Regions from separate parts of the Homo sapiens genome. Here region 1 is linked to region 2. Evidence: fine-mapped expression QTL. A gene starts in region 2. The other region holds a variant in brackets. All regions are shown on one strand. Distances are between the middles of the regions.

Region 1 (15,014 bases), 69 kb after region 2:
AACAGCCAAAGGAGGAAGTGATGAACTGGAAGACAGATCTGAAGAAATCACTCAGATTCCAACTCAGAAAAACAAGTAGGTGAGAAATATGAAGAGAGGCTAAGAGATAAGGAAGACAGAACAGAGAGCCCAACGCAAATCAAATCAGAGCCCCAGAGGGAGGGAAGAGAAGGAATGAAGAATAAAAGGAATTACTGGAAGAGAATGGTTGAGAAGTTTGCAGAATGAAAGACAGACACAAAGTATATCAAACCATGTAAATAAAAAGAAATCCATACCTAGACATAATGGAGTGAAACTGCAGAACACCAAAAACAAAAAAATTACAAAGCAGCCAGGGAGTTAAGACAGATCACCTACAAAGGAACAACAATTAGGCTGACAGCCAATGTCAACTGCAACAACAGAAAAGGAACAAATAGAAAGCAAAAAAGTAAGATGGTAGAAACAAAGTCAAATATGTCAGTAATCACAATAAATGTAAGTAGACTAAACTTTAAAGTTAAATGACAAAGACTGTCAGACTACATTGAAAATATCCAGCTACATGTTTTTTAAAGGATGACATACCTTGACATAAAGTCACTGGAAGACTGAAAGTAAAGGGATGTTAAAAAGATACAGCAAATACTAATCAAAAGAAAGCAAGCTAGAAAGGCTATACTACTACCAGCCAAACTAGACTAAGAAGTAGTATTAGAATAGGCCAGGCGCGGTGGCTCACACCTGTAATCTCAGCACTTTGGGAGGCCAAGACGGGCAGATCACAAAGTCAGGAGTTCGAGACGAGCCTGGCCAACATGGTGAAACCCTGGCTCTACTAAAAATCCAAAAAATAGCTGGGCATGGTGGCGGGTAATACCAGCTACTTGGGAGGCTGAGGCAGGAGAATCGCTTGAACCCAGGAGGTGGAGGTTGCAGTGAGCCGAGATTGCGCCACTGCACTCCAGCCTGGCCAACGAGAGCAAAACTCTGTCTCAAAAAAAAAAAAAGTAGTATTAGAAGACAGAAGGGTTCCATACATCATGATAAAATGGCTGATTCACCAGGAAAATGTAACAGTTCTAAATCTGTGAATAGAACTAATCTGTGAATTGTGAATAGGCTGCAAAATATATAAAGAAAACACTGACAGAATTGATAGGGAAATTGAGAGCTCTCTTGTCCCAGAGGGAGATTAACTTCTGCTGACTGATAAGTCACAGACAAAAGGTTAGGCAAGATGGAGATTTGAATTTATTAAACTCATAGAGCCAGGGAATATGTCCTTCAATTAGAACATGTGAAAAAAGGCAAAACAACAAAAACAGAATATGTCCTTCAAGAAAACAAGGAATAGTCACAAAATGTGATCACATTCCAGGCCATAGGGCAAATCTTACCAAATTTTAAAGAAATTATTTCAAATAGACCATCTGTGCAATTGAGCTAGAAATAAATATGTATTTTTTAAAGATCTATGTTTGAAAAATTTAAAAATATTTAATAATCCATAGGTCAAAGCATAGCAAGACCCCATCTCTACAGAAATCAGAAGGGAAATGTTAAAACACCCCAAACAGAATAATAAAAAATATCAGTCAAAACTTGGGTAAACTGCCAGGTGTGATGGCTCACACCTGTAATCCCAGCACTTTGAGAGGCCGAGGTGGGTGGATCACCTGAGGTTAGGAGTTTGAGACCAGCCTGGCCAACATGGTAAAACCCCGTCTCTACTAAAAATACAAAAATTAGCCAGGCGTGGTGGCGTGCACCTGTAATCCCAGCTACTCAGGAGGCTGAGGCAGAAGAATTGCTTGAACCCAGGAGGCAGAGGTTGTAGTGAGCTGAGATTGCACAGTTGCACTCCAGCCTGGGTGACAAGAGCAAAACTCCATCTCAAAACAAAAACAAAAACAAAAAAAAACTTAGGTGAACAAAAGTGAGACCTGGTAAAATATATATAGCATTAAATGCTATATATGCTATAAAATTAGAAAAGATTGAAAATTTATGAGCCAAGTAGCTAACTGAGAAATTGGAAACAAGAAAAGGAGGTACGCCAGTACTGTTCTCAAATCCAGAGGTCCTAGCCACACCAAAGGGGAAGGATCAGACAGAACAAAAGAAAACCAAAAAGAATCTGCAATTCAATAAAAATATAATTGTTTAGCAAGGTTAGTCCGTGGAGACACTCAAATTTGACCCCTATATGATAACACAAAAATTAATGTCACTGTCCATCAGCAACAGTGAGTAGTTTAGGAGCTTATATGAAATGTAAAAGTTGAAATATTTTATTTATTGATTTTTAAGATGGAGTCTTGCTCTTGTCGCCCAGGCTAGAGTGCAATGGCGTGATTTCGGCTCACTGCAACCTCTGCCTCCGGGGTTCAAGTGATTCTCCTGCCTCAGCCTCCCGAGTAGCTGGGATTACAGGTGCATGCCACCTTGCCCAGCTTTTTTTTTTTTTTTTTTTTTAGACGGAGTCTCGCTCTGTTGCCCAGGCTGGAGTGCAGTGGCGCGATCTTGGCTCACTGCAAGCTCCACCTCCCGGGTTCACGCCATTCTCCTGCCTCAGCCTCCCCAGTAGCTGGGACTACAGGCGCCTGCCACCACGCCTGGCTAATTTTTTGTATTTTTAGTAGAGACGGGGTTTCACGGTGTTAGCCAGGATGGTCTCGATCTGCCGACCTCGTGATGTGCCCATCTCGGCCTCCCAAAGTGCTGGGATTACAGGCATGAGCCACCACCCCTGGCCAGTCATTCTATATTTTCTTCTAAAATATTTCAGCCAGGCGTGGTGGCAAGCGCCTGTAATCCCAGCACTTTGGGAGGCTGAGGCAGGTGGATTGCCTGAGGTCTGGAGTTCAAGACCAGCCTGGTCAACGTGGTGAAACCCCATCTCTAGTAAAAAATACAAAAAGTAGGCCGGGCACGGTGGCTCGCGCCTGTAATCCCAGCACTTTGGGAGGCTGAGGCGGGTGGATTGCCTGAGGTCTGGAGTTCAAGACCAGCCTGGTCAGCATAGTGAAACCCCATCTCTAGTAAAAAATACTAGAGATCGCCCACTGCACTCCAGCCTGGGGGAAAGAGCGAGACTCTGTCTCAAAAAAAAAAAAAAAGACAATGTAGAATGACTTTCTGATTTTAGGGAAGGATATTTTTCAAGACAAATATCAACTAAAATAATCAACTTCCATTCATCAAGACACTAGAGGTGACACTTACAACTACATTTGACGACTCAGCAAAGAAAGTGTGATGCATGTATGCAGACGGAAAATAATGCAAATAGTGGTCAAATGAAAACAAAAGAAGTATTGGCAATGAAGTGGATAAATTTGGAACACTTGTGCACTGCTGCTGGGAATATAAAATATAAAATGGGCTGAGCACAGTGGTGCACACCTGTAATCCCAGCACTTTGGAAGGCCGAGGCTGGCGATTGCTTGAGTTCAAGAGTTCAAGACTAGCCTGGGCAACATGGCAAAATCTGTCTCTATTAAAAACACAAAAATTATCTGGGTGTAGCCAGATGTGGTGGCTCACACCTGTAATCTCAGCACTTTGGGAGGCCAAGATGGGCAGGATCACCTGAGGTCAGGAGTTAAAGACCAGCCTGGCCAACATGGCAAAACCCCATCTCTACTAAAAATGCAAAAATTAGCCAGGTGTGGTGGCGCACACCTGTAATCCCAGCTACTTGGGAGGCTGAGGCAAGAGAATCACTTGAGCCTGGAAGGTGGAGGTTGCAGTGAGCCAAGATCATGCCACTGTACTCTAGCCTGGGTGACAGAGGGAGACTGTCTCAAAAAATAAAAATAAAAATAAAAAAATAAATTAGCTGGGTGTGGTGGTGGGAGCCTGTAGTCCCAGCTACTTGGGAGCCTGAGGCATGAGAATCACTTGAATCCGGGAGGCAAAGGTTGCAGTGAGTGGAGATCACGCCACCACTGCACTCCAGCCAGGGCAACAGAATGAGACTCTGTCTCAAAAATAAAATAAAATGGTTCAGCTGCTGTATAAAACAGTATGGCAGTCCCTCAAAAAATTAAAAGTAGAATTATCATATAATCCAGCAGTTCCACTTCTGGATATATACTCTCCAAAACTGAAAATGGGGTCTCAAAGAGATACCTGTACACTCAGGTTCACAGCGGTATTAGTCAAAAAGCCAAAAGTTGGGAACAACCCAAGCATTCATCTGTGGATGAATAAACAAAATGTGTTCCACCCAGACAATGAAATAGTGTTCAGTCTTTTTTTTTTTTTTTTTTTTTGAGATGGAGTCTTGCTCTTTCACCCAGGCCGGAGTGCAGTGGCACTATCTAAGCTCACTGCAAGCGCCGCCTCCTGGGTTCACACCATTCTCCTCCCTCAGCCTCCCGAGTAGCTGGGACTACAGGTACCCGCCACCACACCCGGCTAATTTTTTGTATTTTTTTTAGTAGAGACGGAGTTTCACCATGTTAGCCAGGATGGTCTCGATCTCCTGACCTCGTGATCCGCCCGCCTTGGCCTCCCAAAATGCTGGGATTACAGGCGTGAGCCACCGTGCCTGGCAGTGTTCAGTCTTAAAAATGGAATTCTGGCTGGGCCCAGTGGCTCACGCCTGTCATCCCAGCACGTTGGGAGGCGGAGGTGAGAGGACTGCTCGAGGCCAGGAGTTTGAGACCAGCCTGAGAAGCATAGCAAGACCCCATCTCTACAGAAAAAAAAAAAAAAATTAAAAATTAGCCAGGTGTGGTGGCATGTGCCTGTGGTCCCAGCTACTTGGAAGGCTGAGGTGGGAGGATCACTTGAGCCCTGGAGATCAAGGCTGCAGTGAGTTGTGATTGCACCACTGCACTCCAGCCTCGGTGACAGAGTGAGATCCTGTCTCAAAAAAAGAAAAAAAAATTCTAACACCTGCTACAACATGGATATGCCTTGAGGACATTGTGCTAACTGAAATGAGCACGTCACAAAAGGACAAATACTGTATGATGCCACTTATATGAGGAACCCAGAGTGGTCACATTCACAGAGACAGGACGTAAAATGGTGGGTGTCAGGGGCTGCAAGAAGGAGGAACAGGGAGTTAGTGTTTGATGGGCTGGAGTTTCAGTTTTGCAAGAGCAAAGAGTTGTGGAGATGGACGGTGGTGATGGTTGCACGACATCTAAATAGACTTTTTTTTTTTTTTTTTTTTTGAGATGGACTCTTGCTCTGTCGCCCAGGCTGGAGTGCAGTGGCGCGATCTCAGCTCACTGCAAGCTCCGCCTACCAGGTTCACGCCATTCTCCTGCCTCAGCCTCCCAAGTAGCTGGGACTATAGGCGTGTGCCATTAGCCTAGCTAATTTTTTGTATTTTTAGTAGAGACAGGGTTTCACCATGTTAGCCAGGATGGTCTTGATCTCCTGACCTTGTGATCCGCCTGCCTTGGCCTCCCAAAGTGCTGGGATTACACATGTGAGCCACCACACCTGGCCTACATTTTTTTTTTTTTTTTTTTTTTGAGACGGAGTTTCACTCTTGTTGCTCAGGCTGGAGCACAATGGCTCGATCTTGGCTCACCACAACCTCCGCTTCCTGGGTTCAAGCAATTCTCCTGCCTCAGCCATCCAAGTAGCTGGGATTACAGGCATGTGTCACCACGCCCGACTAATTTTGTATTTTTAGTAGAGACAGGGTTTCTCCATGTTGATCAGGCTGGTCTTGAACTCCCGACCTCAGGTGATCTGCTTGCCTGAGCCTCCCAAAGTGCTGGGATTACAGGCATGAGCCACCATGCTCGGCCATCTAAATATACTTAATGCCACTGAGCTGCACATTTAAAAATGGTTAAGATGGTGAATTTTATGTTTTGTCTATTTTACCACAATGAAAAAAAATTCAAAGAGAAAAAAGATTCAAAGATGGGCAACAATGTGAACAGGTATTTCACAAAAATTTCACAGAAGAGACATGAATCATGAATAAACAGGAAAAGGTGCTCAACTTCCCTGGTAATCAGAGACATGCATGTTAAGGCCACAGAGGGCATCATTCCATGTGACGAGGGCTAGGTTGGCAAAAATCAAGCCCTATCCATGGATCTTGATTCATTTAAACCTTACTGCCGCCCCCTTGGGAGATTGGTGCAGTCACTACCCCACCTACTTATTATTTGAGGGGTAGGTTTGCAGGTACTCATATGATTATTTTGCTTTATAATTGACATACACATCTTCTTTGTATATATCAAACATATATAATTTTAAAAACTGAAAGGCAGGGAGAATTGGAGAAGGTAAAACTCAAGCAGTCAGCAGGGTCATGTGGGCCATGGTGAGGGCTATGGTCTTTCTCCTAAGACCGGGGGAGTGTGGTGCCGGGCAGAGAAGTGATGAGGTCCAAATTATATGTTAAAAGGATCATTTAAGAGGCCAGGCACGGTGGCTCACACCTGTAATAACAACAATTTGGGAGGCTGAGGCGGGCAGACTGCTTGAGCTCAGGAGTGTGAGACCAGCCTGGGCAACATAGTGAGACCCTGTTTCAATAAAAATAAATAAATAAATAATTTTTTAAAAAAATGAAAAAAGAGGCCACACACAGTGGCTCATACCTGTAATCCCAGCACTTGGGGAGGCTGAGGTGGGTGGATCACCTGAGGTCAGGAGTTTGAGACCAGCCTGGCCAACATGGTGAAACCCCATCTTTACTAAAAATACAAAAATTAGCCAGGCGTGGTGGTGCACACCCATAATCCCAGCTTGGGAGGCTGAGGCAGGAGAATCACTTGAATGCAGGAGGCAGAGGTTGCAGTGAGCCAAGATCATGCCACTGAACTCCTGCCTGGGTGACAAAAGTGAAACTCCATCTCAAAAAAAAAAGAAAAAAAAAGAGCTATAGCCATGAGTGTCCATCAGAGACAGTGAGAGAGGCAATGTCCTGTCTTCCCCAAAGCCCAACAAGGTTCAGGAGCTGAGATGGTCACTAATGGGGACTGCCTTCACCCCAGGAGCCCACTCCTTTGCCTACTCGTGCTGGACACGGAGCCAGTTAAACCATCTTGGTCAGATTACATGAGGGAGTGACAGCTGCGGTGGCCCCACGTTGGGGGCTGCACTTACCAGGCTCCAGGCCCAGCTCGAGGGTCTCCTCCCGCACCACTTGCACCAGCATGGCCAGCAGCAGGAAGAGGAAGGCAAAGGTGAGGCAGACAGAGCGCTCACCCCCCTCCTCGGCGCTGAAGTACAGCCGTGTCACTGTCAGGAACATCTTGCTGGAGGCTGGAGCTAAGGAGGCCTCAGGTGCCACTGCCCCACTCTGCCCATTTCACCACACTCCGTCTGGGACCCCAGAACTCCAGGGAACAAGCACTGCTGCACAAATAGGCCTTGGGGATGACCTAGAGGAGTTCGGTTTTGGGGTGCTGGATCTCAGATCAGGATGTGGGCTGGGGGTTCCCGTTGAGTGGGAGATGGCCTCATCAGGCCACCGTGTCTGTACAGCCTCCCGCCCTGGGTGACCCTGCCTCTTTCACCCACCTCACCTACTTCACATCCCTTGGAAAAGCAATCAGATATAGAAGGGCTTCATCTCCAATCTGCTGTCAAAATGCAGCATGGGGGCCAGACACAGTGGCTCATGCCTGTAATCCCAGCACTTTGGGAGGCCAAGGCAGGAGGATCACTTGAGCCCAGGAGTTCAAGAGCAGCCTGGGTAACATAGTGAGACCCCCATCTCTACAAAAAATAATTTTGTGGTAGCCCCTGTGGTCCCAGCTACTGGGGAGCCTGAGGTGGGAGGATCGCTTGAGCCCAGGAGTTTGAAGCTGCAGTGAGCCCTGATTGCACCACTGCACTCCAGCCTGCACGACAGAGGGATATCTTGTCTCAAACAACAACAACAGGCCAGGCGCAGTGGCTCATGCCTGTAATCCCAGCACTTTGGGAGGCTGAGACAGGTAGATCACCTGAGGTCAGGAGTTTGAGACCAGCCCTGACCAACATGGTGAAACCCAGTCTCTACTAAAAATACAAAAATTAGTCAGGCATGGTGGCGCATGCCTGTAATCCCAGCTACTTGGGAGGCTGAGGCAGGAGAATCACTTGAACCCGGGAGACAGAGGTTGTAGTGAGCCTAAATCATGCCACTGCACTCCAGCCTGGGCAACAAGAGTAAAACTCCATCTCAAAAAACAAAACAAAACAAAAAACAAAAAAGCATGGGAATCTGGGGAACCAGTGGATTTTAAGACAGGTTTCCCACTCCAAAAGTCACAGGAGTAGCATTCTTTCTGTGCTTCCTCAGACTTGGGTCCCCAAAGTCATGTATTTGCTCTCTTTGGGAGGCCAAGGCAGGAGAATCACTTGAAGCCAATCAGGACCAGCCTAGGCAACAAAGCAAGATCCTGTCTCAACAACAACAACAAATATATATACATGTACATACATACACACACACACATATATATATATATACACACACACACACACACACACACAATTTTTTGGGGGGATGTAGTTTCGCTCTTGTCACCCAGGCTGGAGTGCAATAGCATGATCTTGGCTCACTGCAACCTCCACCTCCCGGGTTCAAGCAATTCTCCTGCCTCAGGCTCCTGAGTAGCTGGGATTACAGGTATGCACCACCACCCCCGGCTAATTTTTGTACTTTTAGTAGAGAAGGGGTTTCTCAATGTTGGTCAGGCTGGTCTTGAACTCCTGACCTCAGATGATCCACCTGCCTCGGCCTCCCAAAGTGCTGGGATTACAGGCATGAGCCACCGCGCCTGGCTAATTTTTGTATTTTTAGTAGAGACGGGGTTTCACCATGTTGGCCAGGCTGGTCTTGAACTCCAGACCTCAGGTGATCCGCCTGCCTCAGCTTCCCAAAGTGCTGGGATTACAAGCATGAGCCACCATGCCTGGAGTATATATTTTTTAAAATTTTGCCAAGGGACCATATCTTTCTTGGCCCTGATTGTGGACTGGCCTGGTGATTTCCTTAAACAAGGAGAATGTGGTAGAAAGAATAGGGATGGGGTGGGTGACTTTGGGCAAGGCATTCCCTCCTGCCTCCTGGCATTTCTACTGCCACCAAAGGGCATGACCATGTGGAGTGGAGATGAACCGACCTGCTGAGCCCAGCCCAGTCTGTCCACCCACAGAGCTGGAGCACATAAAATGTCTGCTTCATGTCACTAAGCTTGGGGAAGTTTGTGGCACAGCAGGTGAAAACTGCCACACCAGTTTAGGGGAGCCAGGGAAGCTCAGGTCCTGCTCCCACCCGCCCCACTGGCAGGGAGCAGAGAGGAAGGATACATGGAGAAGGTCACCGTGAGCAGGCACCAGAACACAGCAATGTTAGTCTCCTTGGCTGGTCCCAGCATGTAGTAGTAGGCCTCTGTGAAGAGGTACACGCCGCCCGAGTACACAGCAAAGTCCACAAACCACTGGTACTCCAGGAAGAAGCGCAGGACTGTGGGGGGCACTCTGCTCAGCCCTGGGGCCCAGCTCGCTCCCCTCCTAATAGAACATTCTTCCTTCAAATCCTCCCCACCCCCATGAGGGTGTGGAGACCTTCAGGGCTGAGGGAGTAGAGTTTAGGGATGGGACTGGGCTATTACCCAGGGCATCCACGGTCGTGAGGGGGCAGGTCTCCAGCTGGAACGGGGCATCTCGGGGCACAGACAGTGGCTTCTCCTCACTAAGGCCATTGGCCCACCTGGGAGGATGGTGACAAGCAAGAGGGACGGTGAGCACGCATTCCACTGAGGCCAGCCACCCTCAGAGCTCAGAGCAGCTGGCCTGGAGACCATCTCTTTCCACAACCTTGGCTCCTCTGCACACTGGGATATGGGGATCCCCCCACCCACCCACAGGACTGGCTAGAGCAAACTGCCAGGAAACAGATGCTAACTTGACAGTGACCATCTCCTTGGACTAGGGTCTCCCGGTTCACCTGTGCCCAGATCAGCGCCTGGAAGTATGGGTGGGCCGGTCCTGTGTCCCTGAGCCCAGAGCCCCCTGAGCAGGGGTGAGGCCGTTCCTGGGGAGGAGCCACCCTCCCAAGGCTGGGGCTGGGGCCCAGGTCACTCACCGCTCTTTCCTGCCTCTGGGCCTCGGCTTCCCCGCCAGGGCCCGAAGCTCCTCCTCAGACGGGTGCTTGTATCGGAACAAACTGAGAGCAAGGACGGGCAGTCAGGGAAGCTCAGGCGTGGGGTTGGGAGGTTGAGGCAGTGAACCCCAAATCCAGGGATTCTAGTTAGAGGGTAGCCTAGGCCAGGGGAACACTGGGAGGTAGGTGAGGGTACAGCATGGGGAAATTCTGGGGAAATCGTGAGACCAACAGATCTAGGCTGAGTGGGCTCCGGGGGCTTGGATACCCCTGAATCTGCTGGCTAACTCTCCTGGGGAAGCCAGTGTGTGCAACTTTTCTTTTCTTTTTCATTTTCTTTTTGAGACAGAGTCTCCCTCTGTCACCCAGACTGGAGTGCAGTGGCATGATCTTGGCTCACTGCAACCTCCACTTCCCCGGTTCAAGTGATTCTCCTGCCTCAGCCTCCCGAGGAGCTGGGACTACAGGCATGCGCCACCATGCCCAGCTAATTTTTGTATTTTTACCAGAGACAGGGTTTCACTATGTTGGCCAGGCTGGTCTCAAACTCCTGACCTCAAGTGATCCACCCGCCCCGGCCTCCCAAAGGGCTGGGATTACAGGTGTGAGCCACCTCGCCCGGCCTTTGTTTTTTGTTTTTGAGAGAAGGCCTTGGTCTGTCGCCCAGGCTGGAGTACAGTGGCACCATCTCAGCTCACTGCAGATTTGACTTTCTGGGCTCAAACGATCCTCCTGCCTCAGACTCCTGATTAGCTGGGATCACAGGCGTGAGCCACCATACCTGGCTAATTTTTAAAATATTTTGTAGAGACAGGGTCTTGCCATGTTGCCCAGGCTGGTCAAGTGATCCTCCCACCTTGGCTTCCCCCAGTGTTGGGATTATGGGCCTGAGCTATCATCTCTGACGTGTTTTTTTTTTTTGCCTTTGTTTTTGTCACATACATTTTTCTCAGGAGAGAATTCAGTTGCCACCAGATTCTCAGAAAGCATCACAGACCCACGCAAGGACAAAAACCAGAGCAGGCGAGCTCTAGCAGATGCAGGGGTGGAAGGAAGGCTGGGTTACAGGGAGGCAGGAAGAGTGAGGGACGTGGGGAGTGTGGTGATGGTTCCACACATGTGTACACCTGTCAAAACTAGTCCAACTGTGTACTTCAAATATATACAGTTTGTGTCAGGCATGGGAACTCACGCCTGTAATCCCAGCACTTTGGGAGGCCAAAGTGGTAGGATCGCTTGAGCCTAGGAGTTTGAGACCAGCCTGGGCAACTTAGCAAGACCCCATCTCTATTAAAAATTTAAAAATTGTCTGGGCATGGTGGCGCACACCTGTAGTCCCAGCTACTCAGGAGATTGAGGCAGGAGGGTCACTTGAGCCCAGGAGGTTGAGGTTGCAGTGAGCTATGATCAGGTCACTGCACTCCAGACTGGGTAACAGAGTGAGACCCTGTCTCTAAAAAGAAAAAGAAAAAACAAATATATGCAGTTTGTTGTACTTCAATTACACCTCAACAACGTTTTTCCCCCCACCACCCACCAACCAAAATCAAGGCTTTGCAATTTGTGAGGCGGGGCGTGGGGAGCCAGAAGGGGGCGTGACTCCGCGGGCCCCTCCCACCGCCGGGGCGGGGCTCACCTGCCGTTACAGAGCAGCCAGCGCGCGAAGGAGCAGTGTGGCGCCAGCCTGTGCATGAGGGTGGCAGTGAGCAGGGTCACCACCAGCTGTACTCCGAGGACCGCCTGGGGGGAGGGGACATGACTGGCAGCACCTGCCAGAGGGTCACAAGTTCCCTCCCTCCCTAGGAACCCAGGCT[A/G]TTTATAGAGAAGTCAGGCTGGATGGGGGAAGGGCGAGCCTCTTAGGCTCTAGCGGCTTCTTAGGGGAGAGTCCTGGGGTGAGTCTGGACTCACCTAGCATGGCCCTGCCCTCCCACGTCAGAGATCAACACCCACCCTCACCACCTAGCGGGAGTGTAGGGCAGTGGAGACCATGGGATTTGCCTCCCGCCTCCGCTATGGATTCAGGTATAATATTAATTTCCCGGAGTCTCAGTTTTCTCATCTGGAAATGGGTGCTTCCTATGTAGTCTCCTGTATTCCTCACCACCACCTTCCAGCCCCTAACCACGAGCCCGCCACACTCAGTGAAAGCGGCTCCCACCGCCTTCTGCACCCCACACTGTCACCTAGGGAGCCACTGCGTCTCGGTTGAGCTTCTAGCTTTCTCCTTCACCTGGTAGCTCCTTCCCCTAAGTGTCTCCCACCTTAAGTGATCCCTGATGGTTCCATCACCCTCCTCCCTCTTCTTCCCTTTGTAATTAACCTCCTTGAAAGGGCGTCTATGCTCCTGGCCACCTCCTGTTTTGGTGTGAAGACCTACATGTCTGAGTGGGGTGAGCTTATTTATTTTTATTTATTTATTTATTTTTTTGGCAAGGGAGTGGTGGGGAGAACAGGGTCTTGCTCTGTCACCCAGGCTGGAGTGCAGTGGCATGCTGGGGTGCTCACTGCAGCCTCAACCTCCCAGGCTCAAGTGATTCTCCCACATCAGCCTCCCTAGTAGCTGGGATTACAGGCACTCGCCACCATACCCAACTAATTTTTGTCTATTTTGTAGAGACAGGGTTTCTCCATGTTGCCAGGCTGGTCTTGAACTCCTAGGCTCAAGCAATCCTCCTGCCTTGGCCTCCCAAACGGTTGGGATTACAGGCGTGAGCCACTGTGTCCGGCCTATTTTTATTTTTATTTTTAGAGATGGGGTCTTGCTATGTTGTCCAGGCTGGTCTCAAACTCCTGGGCTCAAGTGATCCTCCCACCTCAACCTACCGAGTAGTTAGGACTACAGTCATGTGCCAACACACCCAGCTAAGGCTTTTTTTTTTTTTAATTAGGAATTTTCTCACCCAGTTCTTAATTCAGAACACATTTTCATATACTTATTTTTAAACGTTTTAGAAGAATCAGTCTGTGGTGAAGCTGGGTTTTCCTGCTTGAATGCAGTAAATACCCATTTGCTGCCAGTAATTACATAATTATGTAAAATTATGTGCTCAGGAGAGCTGTCTACTAGTGTTCTGGAATTATCATCAAAATGAAATAAAGTTTATTTAATAGTAAAATTAATTATGAAAATAATCCTTTAATCAGGCATAAATAAGCTAAATTTAGTCGGAAAAACCCTAATGTGATGGGTACCGGGCCTAGCACGGTAATTCAAAATGACTGCTGAGGCCAGGTGCGGTGGCTCGTGCCTGTAATCCCAGCATGTTGGGAGGCTGAGGCGGGCTGATCACTTGAGGTCAGGAGTTTGAGACGAGCCTGGCCAACATGATGAAACCTTGTCTCTACTAAAAATACAAAAATTAGCCAGACATGGTGGTGGGCGCCTGTAATCCCAGCTACTTGGGAGGCTGAGGCAGCAGAATTGCTTGAACCTGGGAGGCAGAGGTTGCAGTGAGCCGAGATTGTGCCACTGCACTCCAGCCTGGGCAACAGAGTGGGACTCTGTCTCAAAACAAAATAATAATAATAATAAAATAAAAATACATAAAATAACAGACTAATAGGACATTTTCTCTGTACCTGTGACTTGTAAACTGAGACCAGAAATCTTTTTTCAGTAATGAGGTTGGTGGCGGCATCTTTCTCATCTCTAAGTCCTCATTGCTCGCCCTCCCCGGGACCCTAGTGCAGACTGGCTGGCTGGCACTTAGGGACCATGAGTGCCAGCCCATGGGCCCCTGCAAGCCAGTGGGTCAGGGCTGTTGAAGCCCCACCCTTCCCCTAGGACCCTGCCCTCCCACCCCCCAGTCTGTTTTTCTCCTCTCTCTCCGACCTCTCTCCTGTGACCTGCCAGGGTTTTAACCACCCAATCAGCCAGCCCATCAAAACCTCAGCACGGTGACACCTCCAGCCCAGACCTCTCTGCTGAGCTCAACCAGTAGCCTCCTCCAGGCTCTCCTGGGAGACCCTAGCACTCACCCATCATCCCATACCCTTCCAGGTGGTTCAGGCCCTTCCCAGTCTCACAGTCAGCCCCCAACTTGGTTCTGCACCCTGCAGGCATAGCTAGAGACCATCCCTCCACCTCCCCACAGCTCAGCTCTCTCCTCAGCCCTCCCTGCACCCAACCACTGGAGTCTCAGAGGTCTTCCTGGACCTTTGGGCTCTTCATCAATGACCCCACCACCCCCCAAAACCCCCCAAGGGAAAAGGTGGTGGAGGGGTGCATCTCTCCACCTAAGGCTCCCAGAGGTCTGTCCAGGGATGTTCTGATGGCCCTGCCCTCCACCCAGCCTCCTGTCTCAGGGTCAGGGCTCTGCAGACATCTGCAAGAATTTTCTGGAGTCTTCCATCAGCTCCTTCTTTTCCCTTCACTGGATTTACGATTCTCGAACTCAAGAACCCTGATAAAATCAATGCAGCCTCCCTCCTCATTCCCGGGAGCCTGTGCCTTCATCTCCTACGGCGTCCTGCACCTCCGCCTGGGACGACGCCCCACTTTCAATAATTCCGGCCATCAGTGCCCTTCCTTCAGGGCCATCTCCAGCGCCCCTCCTCGGGGATGGTCCCAGGCAGAGACCCTCCAGTTCCACGTCCCTCTCTCTGCCCAGGCCGGTCCCGTCAGGGTTGTGGGAGTCCCCCATCTCCCTGCACCAGCCTGACCCCCAGGGGCTGGGCTAAGTTTTAAGAACACACTCAATAGGTTGGACCCAGAGCCGCGTGAGACCTGAAGGTTCCAACTTTCCTGTCTCCCACTCTGAGAACCTTGCCCGCCCTGAGGCCAACCAGACCTCCTGAGTCCACCTCCCACGGCCTCCCCTGCCCGTTCCACACACCCCGATATAGCAGGGACCCCCGATGGATCCTGTCGGCGCGGCCCCCACGCTCCTGCAGGACCCCCGTCCCCAGAGTGGACCCCCAACAGGACCCCACACCGCCTTAA
Region 2 (16,304 bases):
GCGCCTCTGGGCTCCATCTGCGGCTCCTGTGTTCAGTTTTGGCCACGTCAGCCCAGTCCGTATGTGTCCCTCTATGGTTCTGGAGTTTCCTGTTGCACTTAGAGAAGCCATTCCTACCCCATGATCATAAAAATAGTCTTCAGATGTCTTTTTTTTTTTTTGCACTATTATAGTTTTCTTTTTTTAGGTGAGACCATGAGTTGGTATGGAATTTATTTGGGGCATGATGGAAGGAAGCGGGTTGGGGGGCACATTCTTAAGTCTTCCCAGCAGCCAGCAGGGGGCACTGCAGGCCCAGGTAGCCCCTGGTGTTCCCTGGGGCCTTCCTGGTGCCCGTGGCCACTCCAATAGGCAGAAGGGCTGGACTCTTCCAGTGGAGCAGGATCTCCACCAAAACAGAGGGCCCTGCGGCTGGTTCTTCCCGCCCCCACCACCGTCTCCCTTTCTCCCTGCAGCGTTCCTGGATAACCCTGGCATCCTGAGCGAGCTCTGTGGAACCCTGTCCCGCCTGGCCATTCGCAACGAGTTCTGCCAGGAGGTCGTCGACCTCGGGGGCCTGAGCATTCTGGTGTCCCTGCTAGCCGACTGCAATGACCACCAGATGAGGGACCAGAGCGGCGTTCAGGTATGAAGTCCCCCTGGCCCATTGCGTGCTGTCCTTCTGGGTCCCAGTCAACCGGACGAGCTATAGTCAGAACAAGCCAGCCCTGCCTGCCAGTGTCGGAACCAAAGTGCAGTTTTTCTTTTCACGGACCCAAGGGCAGGAACCAAAGGTCGGGGGGGAAACAAACCCACCTGCTCTCCCTTATTGTCCTTTTGCACCAGGAAAAGGATGGTAGGAAGCATAGGGTTGGGGTGTGTCGGCCAAGGCTGGGATACTTGGGTTAGTTCCCGCACCTCTGCCTCAGTTTCCCTAGCTACAGAATAGAGCAGTGTCCCTACTCATTACTCCGTTTAGCAGCCGATTATTGAGCCCTTCTCCATGTGCCCATCCACAGCAGGGAGCCAATCAACAGGTGCCTCCCTATCCAGCTGCAGCTGCAGGAAAGCCCCCAGGGGTGCCACGGTCCTGCGCCCCCAAGCCCAGCTGTTGACGTCAGCCAGCCTCTTTCTGTGCAAGTGGCCAGGAGCTGAATGGGAACCAACTTCAGCAAATGAAGGGATACATTTTGCCCTGTACTCCTGGGCAGTTGGGGGCAGGGTCCTCAGGTTCTCCATCGGGGGATCAGCAGTCCCAGTAGCACCTCATCCACTGTCCTCAGTGCAGGGCAGTTAGCGCCTACCCTGGGTCTGTGGCCGTGGACAGGGGGACCCTGTGCTCTGAAGGCCGGCCTGAGTCACATGCCCCCGCTGCCCCTGTCGGGGTAGGGGATCAAGTCACCTGGATGGTACCGTTTGGACACAGGCAGCCTGAGCCACAGGCATCTGCCACCCCTTCTCGTTAGTCACACCCTGCAGTCACACCATACCTGTTGGTCAAACAGCAAAACAGCCCCACATTCTCCCTCAGAGCCCTCTCCCACAACCAGCGGCCTGGCTGGAGGTGAGCGGGCCTTTCCCTTGTGCAGGAGCTCGTGAAGCAAGTGCTGAGCACCCTGCGAGCCATCGCAGGCAACGACGACGTGAAAGATGCTATTGTCCGTGCTGGTGGGACGGAGTCCATCGTGGCTGCTATGACCCAGCATCTGACCAGCCCCCAGGTACCCACCTCGGGGGGCACACACAGTAGCAGGGTGGTGGCTGGAGTCCCAGTTCAGTTTCTGTATCTGCATGAAGCTCTATTCCCCTGCAGGGCCAGGGCAGGGCTGGTGAGGGTCGTGGGCATTGGCTCTCAAATGCTGACCTGCGTATGCATGACTTTGGGTGTCCTGGAGTTACCACCAGCACCCTGCAAAGATCTGACCAGGCCTATTGCCCTTGTCACCCCTAAGAGCTGAGCTGATATTTTTGTCACCCTGCCATTATTACACAGGAGTTGCCAGAGACCCACGGAGGGGAGGCCGCAGGGTGTTCACCAGGGGTTGGTGGCCATGGCAGGATGTTGTGGGGGGTCTATCTGCTGCATCTCAGCCTTTCTGTGACTGGCCCCTGCAGGTGTGTGAGCAGAGCTGCGCGGCCCTGTGCTTCCTGGCCCTGCGTAAGCCCGACAACAGCCGCATCATCGTGGAGGGTGGCGGGGCTGTGGCAGCACTGCAGGCCATGAAGGCACACCCGCAGAAGGCCGGCGTGCAGGTGGGCAGGGCAGGGGATGGGGGCAGGCAGGCTGGTGTGGGATGTGCAGGTAGGTGCAGAGAGGGCATGGGAGCAGGTGCGGTGTGCGGGTGGGTGATGGGGCAAAGGCTCAGTCCCTATCCCTATCCCTGTCCCTGTCCCTCCCACAGCCGAGCCCCATAGGGCCAACTTCTTTCTCATCTTGCAAAATGTGCTGAATTCTGCCTTCATTTGCCTCCTTCTCTGCCTTTGTTTTTTCTGCATTTACTCTCCTTTTTTGGGGAGGGGGTAGTTTGGAGGGGCTTTCTGGTGAAACCCTGGAAAGAAAGCTATAACACGTAATCTCCTTCTGTGGGTTTTTTTTTTTTTTTTTTGAGACAGTCTCACTCTGTCGCCCAGGCTGGAGTGCAGTGGCGCCATCTCAGCTCACTGCAACCTCTGCCTCCTGGGTTCAAGCGATTCTCCTGTCTCAGTCTCCCGAGTAGCTGGGATCACAGGCATGGGCCACCACGCCCAGCTAATTTTTGTATTTTTAGTAGAGACAAGGTTTTGCCATGTTAGCCAGGCTGGTCTCGAACTCCTGACTTCAGGTGATCCACCCACCTCCACCTCCCAAAGTGCTGGGATTACAGGTGTGAGCCACCGCACCCTTAATCTCCTTTTTTAAAAGTCCCTATAGAGAGATCTGGGGAGAAAGAAGTTGGGGAAGCGTGGATGGGGATCTGCCTGGGGTTTCAGAAAGGTTTCTGCCCCCTCCTTGGGCTGCTGGTCTGAGTTCTGAGTGTGGGACACCCTGTCCACACCTCCCTGGCTGAACCCAGACTCCTCCGTGCAGCCCCCGGGGCCCTCCTCGCCTCCTCACTCCCAGCATAGGATTCTTGGACACACCAGGCTGGGACCCACAGGGGGCCTTTGCTCTCGCTGGCTCTTACTCTGGGACACTGACCCTTACCTGGTCTGACCCCTTGTCCACTTCTGGCCACCCTGGCCAGCAGTTCCCCACTCTGCATGCGCTTCCCACCTGCTGTCCTGCTGGTGGTGGGAGCCACCCTGGGAAGCTTCCAGGCAGTGCCCCGCGCCCACCCACAGCAGGTGCACAGGGCACAAATGTCCACTGAATGGGTAGGGATGTAATTGACAGGTGCCTGTGCACAACCACTGTCTTCCCGTGGCCTCACTGCCCCCTTGCCCTAGGGCCCCTTCCTTGGCTCTGTGCCAGCCTCGGGGGACCTCAGGCTCACCAACTCTGAGGCTGAGAGTTCCAAAGCCATAGGATAGATCCTGGAGCTTCCCTGAGCCTGTTTCCTTGCCTGGGAGTTAGCCATGCCTTGTGGGGCTGCCAAGAGGGTAAAGTAGAGAGATGGGTCTAGCTTGATACAGTATAGGCAGCTGCTGGATGTCAGCTGTGGTTATGATCACCTCCATCTTGTTATGATGAAGACCCTGAGGTCAGAGTGGACCCCACCCCAAAGCCCCATCTGGCAGCTCACAGCTGCTCTCTCCTACAGAAACAGGCTTGCATGCTGATCCGAAACCTGGTGGCCCACGGCCAGGCCTTCTCGAAGCCCATCCTGGACCTGGGGGCTGAGGCACTCATCATGCAGGCCCGATCTGCCCACCGTGACTGTGAGGACGTGGCCAAGGCCGCCCTGCGGGACCTGGGTTGTCATGTCGAGCTCCGAGAGCTGTGGACAGGCCAGAGGGGCAACCTGGCGCCATGACCCCAGGCCCAGTCTGGGCCGTGACTCTGGGTGAGTCGTGTGACTCAGGAATGGGGGTAGATCCATGTCCTCCACTGTCCCCCATTAGTTCTGTCCCCTTCACAATGAGAAGTGTTTTCTGGCAGGCCCTAGGTAAAGGGTCGGGGGAGGGGGGAGCCTTGTAGGGAGGCCTCTACACAGAAGAAAGCAGCCCCCATGTCCCAGCCACTTCTGGGTCCCAGCCAGCAGCACGGATGTTACTGTCCTGCTCCTTCCCCCAGCCCCACGCCCTACCAGAGGGGGCAAAGGGCACGTCCCATCACTCACTGCCCTGTCTGAAATGTGGCAGCCACTGTGGGCCAGGCTCAGGGCAGGGCAGGCGATTCCAGTGGGGTTGGGCCCCCTGGCGCCTGCTGCTTACTGCAGTTTCATGCAGGCCTCTGCTCCTTGTCTTTCTTACCTGTAAAATGGGTCTCAGATGCTCCGCCCTGCTTGGCCCCAGCTTGTCTGTCTCTGGGTCCTGGGCCAGCCAGGATACCTGATAATAAAAGATCATTGGGTGAACAGCGGAGGGGTCTCTTCCATAGCTTGGCTGAGCATGGGGGGCCACAGTCAGTGGCCTCAGAGTGTGGGGGAGAGACAGACATTTTGGTGGGGGGGGCCATGGAGTCACTGAGGATAGCAAAGGGGTTTTGGGAACAGCCAGGGATCTAGGATCTGCTGTCACCCTCAGACAGGCAGGCGCTGAGGCCATGGTCAGGATCACTGTTTCTGACGTGTACCACCTGCAGGGCCGGAGGGCTCCACGTTCATCCCCTACTCAGCTCTGCGGCCTTGAGCAAGTGAAAGAACCTCTCCGAGCCTCAATATGCTCCTCCTAAAGTGAGGAGTGGGGCAGTGATAGATCGCCCTCTGAGAGGTGTTGGACCAGGCTGAGCACATGGAGGGTGTCCAGTTGTCTTAGGCTGGGTGTCCTAGGTACCCAACCTCTTGTCTCTGAGCCTCGATTTCCCCATCTATAAGATAGACATCGGCGGGCACGGTGGCTCATGCCTGTAATCCCAGCACTTTGGGAGGCTGAGGTGGGTGGGTCACTTGAGGTCAGGAGTTCGAGACCAGCCTTGCCAATATGGTGAAACCCCGTCTCTACTAAAAAAATACAAAAATCAGCCCAGTGTGGTGACGTATGCCTGTAATACCAGTTACCTGGGAGGCTGAGACAGGAGAAGTGCTTGAACCCGGGCAGCAGAGGTTGCAGGGAGCTGAGATCACGCCACTGCACTCCAGCCTGGGCAACAGAGCAAGACTCTGTCTCAAAAAAAAAAAAAAAAGACATCATTGTTGTTGCCCTCAGTGACCACCCCACCCCAAGCATTCTGGGGGTGCCCAGACAGCTGTGGCCCTGCAGACCCCAGCTCTTCTGCTCTGAAGTCACACTCAGAGGTCACACCGTGGTCACTAGGTGGCTTGTGCATCTCTTGTGGCCTCACGGGGGTCCGGGCAGCCTCATGACCACTGGTGTGTGCCCTAGCCTTCCTGCCCACACCTTGGAGGCCTCTCCCCTCTTGGACCCTCGCCCCTGCTTGTCATGTGCCTCCCCGAGCCCCAGGATGGCCTGGGCTCAGTCCTTGACCTCAGGGACACTCCTTTCCCAGCAGGCCCCCAGCTTCCGTGGAATCCAGCCGATGCAAACAGCTGAGGAGCGTCACCCTGGCTGCACCTCTCCGTGGTGTCCCCGTCTCCCCTGCCCCCAGCAGGAAAGGGTGCTCTCAGCTCAGCAGGGCTGGCCCAAACCTCTGACCCAGTCACCCCGCCCTATCCCTCCTCCCTGGAGACTCCCAGGATGTGGGAGAAAGATCTCGAATCTGCCCCAGACTGCCCTGACTTAACTTCTGGGCCAGTGTGACCTTGGGCAGTTCTCAAGCATTTCTTCATCTGTCATGTGGCGGGGTAGGTGCTCCTGAGCTATTTCGAGGACGGCCTGCAGTGCTGGCCCTGTCATTCCTGCTCCAGCCTTGCTCTCAGTCTGCCCATGGCTCCCCTTTGCCTTCTACATAAAACCAAACCTGTCTGTGGTCCCAGCAACTTGGGCTAAGGCGGGAAGATCACTTGAGCCCAGGAGTCAAGGCTGCAGTGAGTTAGGATGGCACCACTGCACTCCAGCCTGGGTGACGGATCAAGAGCTTGTCTCAAAAACAAACAAACAAACAAAAAAATGCACTTCATGCCCTGCAGACCCAGTATGGCCCAGGCCTTGCCCATTTCCCAGTCTTTCCACTGTACTCACTCCCTATTCCCCCACCCCAGGGCCTTTGCACAAGCCCCCATGTGACAAGCCATGCCCTCTGCCTAGAAGTGCCCTTCCCTTGGCCTTCCCCGTGGCCGGCTCCTCCTAGCACATGAGGTTTCAGCTCACGTTGCCTTCTCCAGGAGAGACCCCCATCTCATCACCTCATGTGCTCTGGCTCTGACACTGGGCCCCATCTGAGGTCACCTCATTTGTGAACTCTCCTGTTTGTCTTGCCCCCACCATCGGCTGGCTCCCTGCAGGGAGGCCCCTGTCCCCACTTGCTGTGCCTTCAGCTTCCCGTCAGTGTTTTTGAGTGTTCACCTGAATAAACTGACAAGCACTCGAGGTCCCTGCCAGGTGGCCCCAGCGTCCTCCCCTGGGCCTGGGCCAAGCTGCAGGCTTCTTCAGGAAGGGGTGGTTCTGCCTTATCTGTCCCTCCCACCTTAGCCCAAGGAAGTGGGTGTCTTCAGTAGATGCAGCTAGCATGTTTGGACAGCCTCAGGTTGGGTGGGGGCCCCTCACCAAAGATCTCACATTTCCCTGGGGTTATGGCCTGGCTTTCCATCCCCCCTCGGCCACTTCAGGCATATCACCTCCCGTCTGTGAGCCTCGGCCTTCTCATCTGAACTCAGGCTAGATCTGGCACACTGGAGGGCCACAGCCCCTAGAAAGGCGCGCTTCAGGGGATGTCCAGAACATAACTCCCCCCAGCCCCCATCCCCGTCGCCTTCCCTTTTCTGTCACCCAGGCTGGAGTGCAGTGGCGCCATCTCGGCTCACTGCAAGCTCTGCCTCCCAGGTTCACACCATTCTCCTGCCTCAGCCTCCTGAGTAGCTGGGATTACAGGCGCCTGCCACCACCCCCGGCTAATTTTTTTGTATTTTTAGTAGAGATGGGGTTTCACCTTGTTAGCCAGGATGGTCTTGATCTCCTGACCTCGTGATCCGCCCGCCTCGGCCTCCCAAAGTGCTAGGATTACAGGCGTGAGCCACCGCACCCGGCCCTGGCCTTCTCTTAAGTAGCTTTTGCTGTCCTCCTTGATGACATCGAGACCTGGGCTGAGGTGGAGCCTGCTGCAAGGATGGTGCGAGTGTGTTCAGGCCACGCCTCTGCTACTGTAGGCTCTTGGTGAAGTGGCCTGACTTATCTGAGCCTTGGGAGGTGAATGAGGCCACTCTGACCCCAGCCAGGCTTGGTTGTTGTCACTGCTGTGTTCAGGATGTCTCCCTCCAGCCAGGGATGGGCTTGGGCTCCTGGGAAAGGAACACAGATTTTTTCTGTTGTGAACATACATCTCCCAGAGGCTGGACTAAACCTCATTTTCCAGATAGGAAATAGACTCATGGGCATTTGAGGGGCTGCGGTGGGATGAGACCACAGCTTGGCCTGCCTCCAGGCCCCTCATCTTTTTCCAAAGCTGTTAACCTGACCTTGGGCAAAAGGCCTTTGGGCCTCAGGTGATTAGGCCTGGACGCTGTGCCAGGGCCTGGCTCACAGATGATTCCTGGGATCCCCAAGAGGTAGAGGAGACTGGAGGGCGAAGAGGCAGTGTCCTGTCCAGGGCTGGCCAGCCAAAGCAGAAGAGCCGAGATCCTGGGCACCCTAGCTGGGCTTACATGAGTGCCCATGGTGGGGGTGTCCATTGCTATTGCCAAGGTGCTTTGCCTGCCATTGCTGGAAGGCGGTAGGGAGGTTGGCTGGCGCCAGCCTGCTAAAGAACGAGCAGAAGCTAGAGAGGCAGCCCCAGGCTGGGCCAGAGCCTGACCTTTGCCTTAGTTGGCTCTGTCCCTGGAGGCACTGTGGGACCTTCCAGGAGCTTTGTTACCTCCCCCTCCCAGGGCCTGGCAGGTGGGCACTGGGAGTGGGCGCTCCTCGGCGTAGATATCTCCCTCTTGGTGTGGCAAGCCACGCCCATAGTTGGTCTGTGTCCATGAAGCGCTATTTACAGAGAGGGAAACAGGCCCAGAGAAGAACAATATATCATCACCAGCCTTCCATGAGTGCTTACTGTGGACGAAGCCATTGTAAGTGTTTTGCTTCCATTTCATCAATGCTCACATCAGCCCTAGGAGACAGCCGGGAAACTGAAGTGGGGAGCTTGTGTTATTTGCTGAAGGTCCTGTGGCTGTTACTGGCCATTACTTACGTTAAAAAGAGCAGGGATTCAAACTCAGCCCTGGGTCCTTCCACCAAGGAATATTCTCCACCATAGGCTCAGTTTTCTTATCTGCTAAGTGGGCACTGTCACGTCCACCTGGAAGTGAGGTGGGGAGATGGTATTGGAGAAAGCCCAGTGGGGACCTGGCACCCAATTGATGTTCAACTGACCTCAGCTTCCCCCTCTTCTCTGGAGGGCAGAATGGAGGCCAGATCCTGGAAGTTGCCAGGAAGCAAACCACAGGTGGGAGGTATGGGAGAGGAGGTCCAGGTAGGCATATCGTGAGAATATCAGGAGTTTGATGATGGCCTTGGGCTAGTGATTTCCCGTCACATCCTCCCCATTTGAAACTTGTGGATCACACACTTAGCAGGGGCTTGTGCAGCCCTGAAATGTGAGCCCTTTCTAAGGTTGGTTTCAGCCTTGCTCCCTCCCAGGATTCCCTGGTTCTGAACTTGATCTCCACCAACCCTGGCCAGCACCTAGAGGAAATAAGAGCTGGTATCTGGAAACATTTGTAGCCCTCTCCATCCTGAAGATGAAGGGTGAGTCATAGAACAGAGTGGCTTCGGGGGAGGTGCCGATGACACAGCCATGCCTGGGATGGCAGGTGTCTCCCTAAACTGCCGGCATTTTTCTGCACTTCACAGAGGAGCTGAGGCTCACAGGCCGCACATGACCTGCTCAGGGTCAAATGCTTTCACCAGATAATTAAAATGAGAGCTGAGTTGTAAATTTTCCCAGGGAAGCAACCCCAGAGAGGAAAGATCAAGGCATAGGAATCATTTTCCCCCCTCTTTTCCAAATGAAACAGCTGAGGCTCACAAGGGCTTTTGCCCAAGGTTGTGTGGTGGGCCAGTGATTGGACAAGGATTCAAACCCAGGTCTCTGAGGCCCCCAGTGGCTCTTCTCTGACACACTCTTTCCAAAAAGCAGGCTGCTCTAGATTCATTCTCTGGTTTAGCAACCAGAGAATGCTGTGTAACCTTGGGCAAGGAGCTTGACCTCTCTGTGCTCTGGTTTCTGTAAAAGGAGCCAGTGGTCTCTCTGACCTCATGGGATTGTGGTTAAGATTCAGTTAATTCAAAAAAAGACTTGGCAGGGAGAAGGCCCAACAGGGATGTCACTGGATACCGTGGCGGGGAAAGCTGGGACGCAGAGAGGTCAGACACTCAGAAAACCACGCAGCGCGTTTCAGTAGGATTCCGCCCCTTATTTCCATGTCTTCACACCACCTCGAGATGGAGAGGGCAGTTCAGAGTGACCTCCAGCGAATCTGCCCTCTCCGTGTCGTCTGCAGGGGATTAGTGGGGAGTAAGGGGATAGAGAATTATCCAGGAGTCCTTCAGCCTTGATGGTCCAAGTTCACATCCGCTTCTGTGCTAGGTGGCCAGAGGGCGGGCTCTACACGAGAGCCTCAGGGGACCCTGCGCCAGGCGTCCGAGGCCACGTCGGGTTGCCGCGCTCCGGGTCGGACTGCACCTTGAACGCTCCAGCCCTCCCCTGGGGGCGTACCGCCCACGGCCGCTGCGACTGGCCGCGGGGCCTGCCAGTCTTCGGCTTTGCGGCCAATCCCGGTCTCCCCCCAAGCTACGCCCTCCGTTCCTCTCGCCTCTGCCCCACCGGTAGCGCCAGTTTCTTCGTAGCCCCGCCCCTGGCCCCCAGCGATTGGCCGACAGTTCTGCCTGTTTTCTGCCAAGATTCCAATCCTCGCCTGCCTCCAGGCCCTCGCCTCCCAGCGCCTAGCACCCTGAGGGACCACTCAGGCACCCCAGGCCTCTCCCAATAGCCCCACCTCTGCCAATCAGCGATTGGCTTTAGGGGCTGCCCATCTGCTTCATACTCGCCAATCACTGTCGCTTCCAGCGCTGACTGGCCAGGGAGCAGCCAATCGGGGCGTGGCGTGGACCCCTCCCGTGGCGCGCTCTGGGGGTGCGCGAGGCGGGGCCGTGGCGGCTGGAGGTAGCGGCGGCGGCGACGCGTCCGGGCCGGTGAGGGGGCGCGGGGGGCGCCGGGGGGGCCCAAGCGTCAGCGGCCCGCGCCTGTCGGGCTGAACTGAGGTGAGGCACGGGTCCTGTCATGGATCCCGGGGCGAGGGGCGGATGAGGCGGGGCATGACAGTAGCGTCGCGAGGGCAGGAAGAGGTTAAAGACCCCCCCCAACCCCACACTCCACGTCTACTGCCCCCTGGGGGCTACTGCATCCAGGTTTGAGCCCGTCACCCGCAGTCCACGCACGCCTGACACCACGTCCCTTTTCGTTGACATCCCCCATACACTTTAGACTGTCCTTGCTGACATCTCCCACACCCCTGGGGCCTTGTCCCCGGCGCCCCGCACAGCTGGGTCTGACATCCCCCTCACACACCTGACACCGCGCCCCCACTCACGAACACCCGCCCCCACTCACGAACACCCCCCACATCACCTGAGTCTGTCCTTGTCGATGACACCCCCACACCCACACCTGAGCCTGTGACTCCTAACTCATGGCCTCGCAACTCACACCTGGACCTAGTCCCGTCCCCCACTGCCTTTCCTCATATCCAGGTATCTGCTCGCTACTCTCGTGCCCACTCCCCCAGCAACCTGTGTCTCTCTTCTCAGGGACCTTCCCCCTGGCACCTGCCCTCTGCCCTGGCAGCCCCACACCTCTGTCTCCCCCTTTTCTCTCTCCCACCTTGGGCTTTCTTCCACGTGCACCTGTGTTCGCACACCCTCTGTAATAATCCCCCCGAATCCCCCAGGTCCTCCAATAGTCCCCCAAGCCTTGGTATCTCAGGATCGCTGCACCCTCCCCTCCCCAAACAAAAGCTTACCCCAGTGTTCATTTCTAACAGTGCTTGACAGTCTATAAAGTGATTTCCGGACCTTAGAATAATCCCATCTGTCAGACCAAACCGGAATCATCTCCATTTTACCAGCCACAGACCTAAACCACTTGAATGCTAGAGGCAGAGCCTATTCTACCCTGGGCATCGCTGACCCTCTGCTGTGGACCCACCGCGTTTGGGCCCATCTGTTATGTTTATCTCAGAGGGATTGGCAGGAGTCGTGACTTTGACTGGGTCCGGAAAGGCTTAGCTGGAAGGGACGGCCCCTCTGCCAAGCGTGTGTCTCGGAGTCCTGGGGCAGGCTGGCGGTGGAGACGCTGCCGGAGGAGGGGGGCTCATCATCTTGGGTGCCTCCTGCAGGATGCCGGAGAGGGGGTTGCCGGGGCCGGGGCTCCCAGCTCTTGCAGACCCGGGACCCCTCTCCGACACTCCCTGGGCCCTTGAAGCCGATAAAGAGTAAGGAAACACTCTTTAGAGTGAGGCAAACTAATGTTTCAGCTGTTTAAAGCTAACCTGCAAAACGAGCCTGGGTGGTGCTAGGAATGATTCTTCTGGAATTTTTTAGTTCCCTTGAGTCTGATTTGCAAGCATGCAGCATAGAAGGAGGACAGTGGCTTTGTTGTTGAAAAGCAATAACGTGCCATTTCCTGTAAGGCTCCTGGAGCGTTTCTTACCCCCTCCCACCGCTCCCTGCAAAGACGGTACCAGAATGTTTCAGAGGGTCATGTCACCTTCAGCTTCTCCTGTGGAAACTGAAGCCATTTGGGTTTTCTGTCCAACTTCAATAGGAGTCATTTAAAACATATATGGGCATGTATGTATATATGTATGTATATGTGTGTGTGTTGTACACATATGTACATGTACCTATAATATTCATATGTTTATATACATATTTTATATATACATATTTCGTGTGTGTTATATATGTACATGTGTATAAACTTTGGCAAGATCATTGAGTATATAGTTTTTGGGTTTTTTTTGAGACGGAGTCTTGCTCTGTTGCCCAGGCTGGAGTGCAGTGGTGTGATCTCGGCTCACGGCAACCTCTGCCTCCTGGGTTCATGCAGTTCTCCTACCTCAGCCTCCTGAGTAGCTGGGATTACAGGCATGTGCCACCACACCCAGCTAATTTTTGTATTTTTAATAGAAACGGGGTTTCACCATGTTGGCTAGGCTGGTCTCGCACTCCTGACCCCAAGTGATCTGCTCGCCTCAGCCTCCCAAGATGCTGGGATTACAGGCGTGAGCCACCACACCCGGCCTATTATATAGTTAAAAAGAAAAAATCAAACAGTACAAAAGGTCACATAGTAGAAATCAGTCAGGTCTTCCCCAGCCTGTACCCCGTTCCTCCTCAGATGCACCTGCTGTTGATAATTTCTTATGTTTTCTTCCAGAGGTAGTCTATGACTGGGGTGGCAGAAAGGGGTCGGGGGAGGTATATATCCCCCACCCCTTTTAAACCACTGGTAAATTTGCATTGAGCAGACATATGCATTCTAAGGCCAGTCCCTTACTGATGGCTGTTTAAGCTGCAGCCCATATTTTTTTTTTCTTTCTTTTTTTTTTTTTGAGTTGGATTCTTGCTCTGTCGCCCAGGCTGGAGTGCAGTGGCGCGATCTCGGCTCACTGCAAGCTCCGCCTCCCAAGTTCAAGCCATTCTCCTGCCTCAGCCTCCTGAGTAGCTGGGACTACAGGCACCCACCACTACACCCGGCTAATTTTTTCATATTTTTTTAGTAGAGACGGGGTTTCACTGTGTTAGCCAGGATGGTCTCGATCTCCTGACCTTGTGATCAGCCTGCCTCGGTCTCCCAAAGTGCTGGGATTACAGGCGTGAGCCACTGCGCCCAGCCACTGCAGCCCATATTTAGCTTTTACAAACAGAGCTGCAATGGATAGATGCATGCATCAGCATGTACTAAATACACATTGAACGTATTTGGGCTCCAGCCGTGCTCAGACACTTCAGACCCCCCTGTCTTGCTGGCCATGCCTGTAGTCCACAGTTACTCAGGAGGCTGAGGTGGGAGGATTGCTTGAACCAAGGAGTTCAAGGCTGCAGTGAGCTATAATCATGCCACTGCACTCCTCTCCAGCCTGGACGACAGAGCTAGACCCTGTCTCAAAAAAAAAAAAAAAAAAGGGCCAAGTAAAAGGGCATATTCCTCCTCCTCCTCTCAACTGTGAAGTTGGAAAGCCTGATTCCTCTCCTGTGGCCAGCTCAGTTATCTTACTATCAAGTTTTGTGGTCTGTCCCATCTGATAGGTAAAAAACAGCACAAGAGATCCTTTTGAACATCACTTCCATGCTTCCTACCCCTGTCTTAGGTGTTCTGGCTTGTGGGGTAGGGATTAAACATTAGACTTGTTTCTCTGCCAGTCAGACTAAAGTTCAAGAAATATTTGGGGCTGGATGCAGTGGTTCACACCACCCAACACTTTGGGTGGATGAGGCAGGTGTATTGCTTGAGCCCAGGAGTTTCAGACCAGCTCGGGCAACATGGTGAAACCCTATCTCTATAAAAAAAATTTTAAAATTAGCCGGGCGTGGTGGCGTGCGTAAATAGTCTCAGCTAGTTGGGAGGCTAAGGTGGAGAACTGCTTGAGCCCAGGAGTTCAATGCTGCAGTGAGCTATGATTGCACCATTGCACTCCAGCCTGGGCAACAGAGCAAGACCCTGTTTTTCTGTTAAAAAAAATTTTTTTTGAGTTCCTGCTCTGTGAAGCTTGTCCCTATAGCAGGGAGCAGTGGTGGTGCTGAGATTTTGGCTCAAGGTACCTCAACAAGAACAGTTGCTAGAAGAACCATTTAGCTGTTGCTGATTTTTTTTTTTTTCACTTGGGTCTAGGAAAAGAAAGATGAGGGCATCATGAGAGATTGAGACGAGTCAGATGTTAAATCTGTCTGGGAAGCTGTTTCGAGACTCTCTCCAATTGTCCAATTTCTCACCACTGGTGCCAGATGGAGGGTGTCGTCATACTGAAGTCAGGCCTCTGCCCACGTGTCATACAGTTTTTTTTGTCTGTCTCTTCTATTTTGGCAGTTAGACATTAAGAGGGGATTATTGAGATAATCAGAATCATTCGCTCGTTTGGGTTTTGCAAGACAGAGCTTTTAAAAGTGCATTTGCATTTTTTATTTTAAACATGAAATACTTCTTCATAAAAAGTATATTGGCCGGGCACAGTGGCTCACACCTGTAATCCCAGCACTTTGGGAGGCCGAGGCGGGCAGATCATGAGGTCAGGAGTTCAAGACCAGCATGACCAACATGGTGAAACCCTGTCTCTACCAAAGAATACAAAAATTAGCCAGGCGTAGTGGCATGCGCCTGTAATCCTAGCTACTCAGGAAGCTGAGGCAGGAGAATTGCTTGAACCCGGGAGTTGGAGGTTGCAGTGAGCTGAGATCACACCATCGCACTCCAGCCTGGGCGACAGAGCGAGACTCTGTCTCAAAAAAAAAAAAAAAAAGTATATCATGTCGGGCCAGGCATGGTGGCTCACGCCTTTCATCCTAGCACTTTGGGAGGCCGAGGCAGGTGGATCACTTGATGTCAGGAGTTCAAGACCAGCCTAGCCAACATGGTGAAACCCCGTCTCTACTAAAAATACAAAAATTAGCCGGGCATGTTGGTGGGCGCCTGTATTCCCAGCTACTCTGGAGGCTGAGGCAGGGAGAATTGCTTAAACCCGGGAGGCGGAGGTTGCAGCGAGCCAAGATCGTGCCACTGCACTCCAGCCTGGGCAACAGGGCAAGACTCTGTCTCAAGAAAAAAATAAAAACAAAAATAGCCGGGTGTGGTGGTGCATGCCCATAGTCCCAGCTACTCGGGAGACTGAGGCAGGAGAATCGTTTGAACCCTGGAGGCGGAGGTTGCAGTGAGCTGAGATGGCACCACTGCACTCCAGCCTGGGTGACAGAGCGACACTCAGTCTCAAATAAATAAATAAATAAATAAATAAATAAATAAATAAATTAGCTGGCCTTGTTGGCATGTACCCATAGTCCTAGCTACTCAGGAGGCTGAGGTGGGAGGATCACTTGAGCTCAGGGGGTTGAGGCTGCAGTGAGCCATGGTTTGTGCCACTGCACTCCAGCCTGGGTGACAGTGAGGTTCTGTCTCTTTAAAAAAAAAAAAAAAGTATATAACATGTATGTGAAAAGAAAGAAGATTTAACCAATAATAAAATTAGCACCCAACTCAGGAAGTAGAACGATGTCCCCTGGAGGCCCCACCCTGTTCACAGAGCTATTTTTAAAATATGCTTGTCAACATTTGTTTTCTTCACTGAGCACCTTTTGCTACTACCATCTTGGGCAGAATGCTTGGATTCCAGGGGCTCAACAAAGTTCTCTGCTGGCCAGATTTTCTGCTGAGCTCTCTGCCAGCCCAGCAGCCTGTGAGGTTCTGGCAGGCAAATGGCTGAGGACAAGCCACCAGCTGAGGGGCAGGCCAACACTTGGAGGCTTGGCCTCAGATCCCTGCATATTCGTTTCCCGTGGCTGCCATAATAAATTACCACAAACTGGGGGGCTTCAGACAACAGAAATGTATCCTGTCGTAGTTGTGGAGGCCTAAAGTCCAAAATGAAGGTGTCAACAGGACTGGTTCCTTCTGGAGGCTCTGAGGGAGTCCTTCCCAGGCCTTTCTCCGGGCAAACTTTGAAGTTCTTGGCTCGTGGCTACATCACTCCAGTCTCTGCCTTTGTATTAATGTGGCTTTCTCCCTGTTGTGTGTGTCTTTGTGTCCTCTATTTTTTCTTTCTTTTTAGAGATGGGGTCTCACTATGTTGTTCACGCTGGAGTGCAGTGATATGATCATAGTTCACTGCAACCTCTAACTCTTTGGCTTAAGTGATTCTCCCGCTTCAGCCTGCTGAGTAGCTGGGACTATAGGCGCAGGCCACCACTCCTGGATCTCCTCTTCTTTTTTTTTTTTTTTGAGACAAGCTCTTGCTCTGTTGCCCAGGCTGGACTGCAGTGGTGCGATCTTCGCTCACTGCAACCTCTGCCTCCCAGGTTCAAGCGATTCTCCTGCCTCAGCCTCCCGAGTAGTTGGGATTATAGGCATGCACCACCACATCCAGCTAATTTTATTT

The links.
Region 1: its variant is fine-mapped to the expression of SLC25A42 in skeletal muscle (GTEx, PIP above 0.99). The same link has a PIP of 0.9 or more in atrial appendage and left ventricle.

Annotation. Positions count from the first base shown.
Region 1 is chr19:19,123,076-19,138,089 of GRCh38, forward strand. TMEM161A (transmembrane protein 161A) reads right to left here. Exons shown (of 12, transcript NM_017814.3): 2 at 11,709-11,812; 3 at 10,055-10,135; 4 at 9,582-9,679; 5 at 9,277-9,433; 6 at 7,081-7,232. Among named protein-coding and RNA genes, the nearest start is that of TMEM161A, 7.9 kb to the right of the region's middle. RefSeq lists an enhancer at 14,785-15,014. The variant A/G (reference allele first, on the strand shown) is at 11,887.
Region 2 is chr19:19,053,697-19,070,000 of GRCh38, forward strand. SLC25A42 (solute carrier family 25 member 42) reads left to right here and starts at 10,298. Exons shown (of 8, transcript NM_178526.5): 1 at 10,298-10,419. It overlaps LOC124904655 (a long non-coding RNA gene), which reads right to left and starts at 9,829. Exons shown (of 3, transcript XR_007067160.1): 1 at 9,494-9,829; 2 at 8,348-8,455; 3 at 7,130-7,454. It overlaps ARMC6 (armadillo repeat containing 6), which reads left to right. Exons shown (of 9, transcript NM_001199196.2): 6 at 456-625; 7 at 1,569-1,700; 8 at 2,095-2,232; 9 at 3,720-4,480. The coding sequence ends at 3,932. RefSeq lists an enhancer at 324-383 and silencers at 9,770-9,939, 10,200-10,469.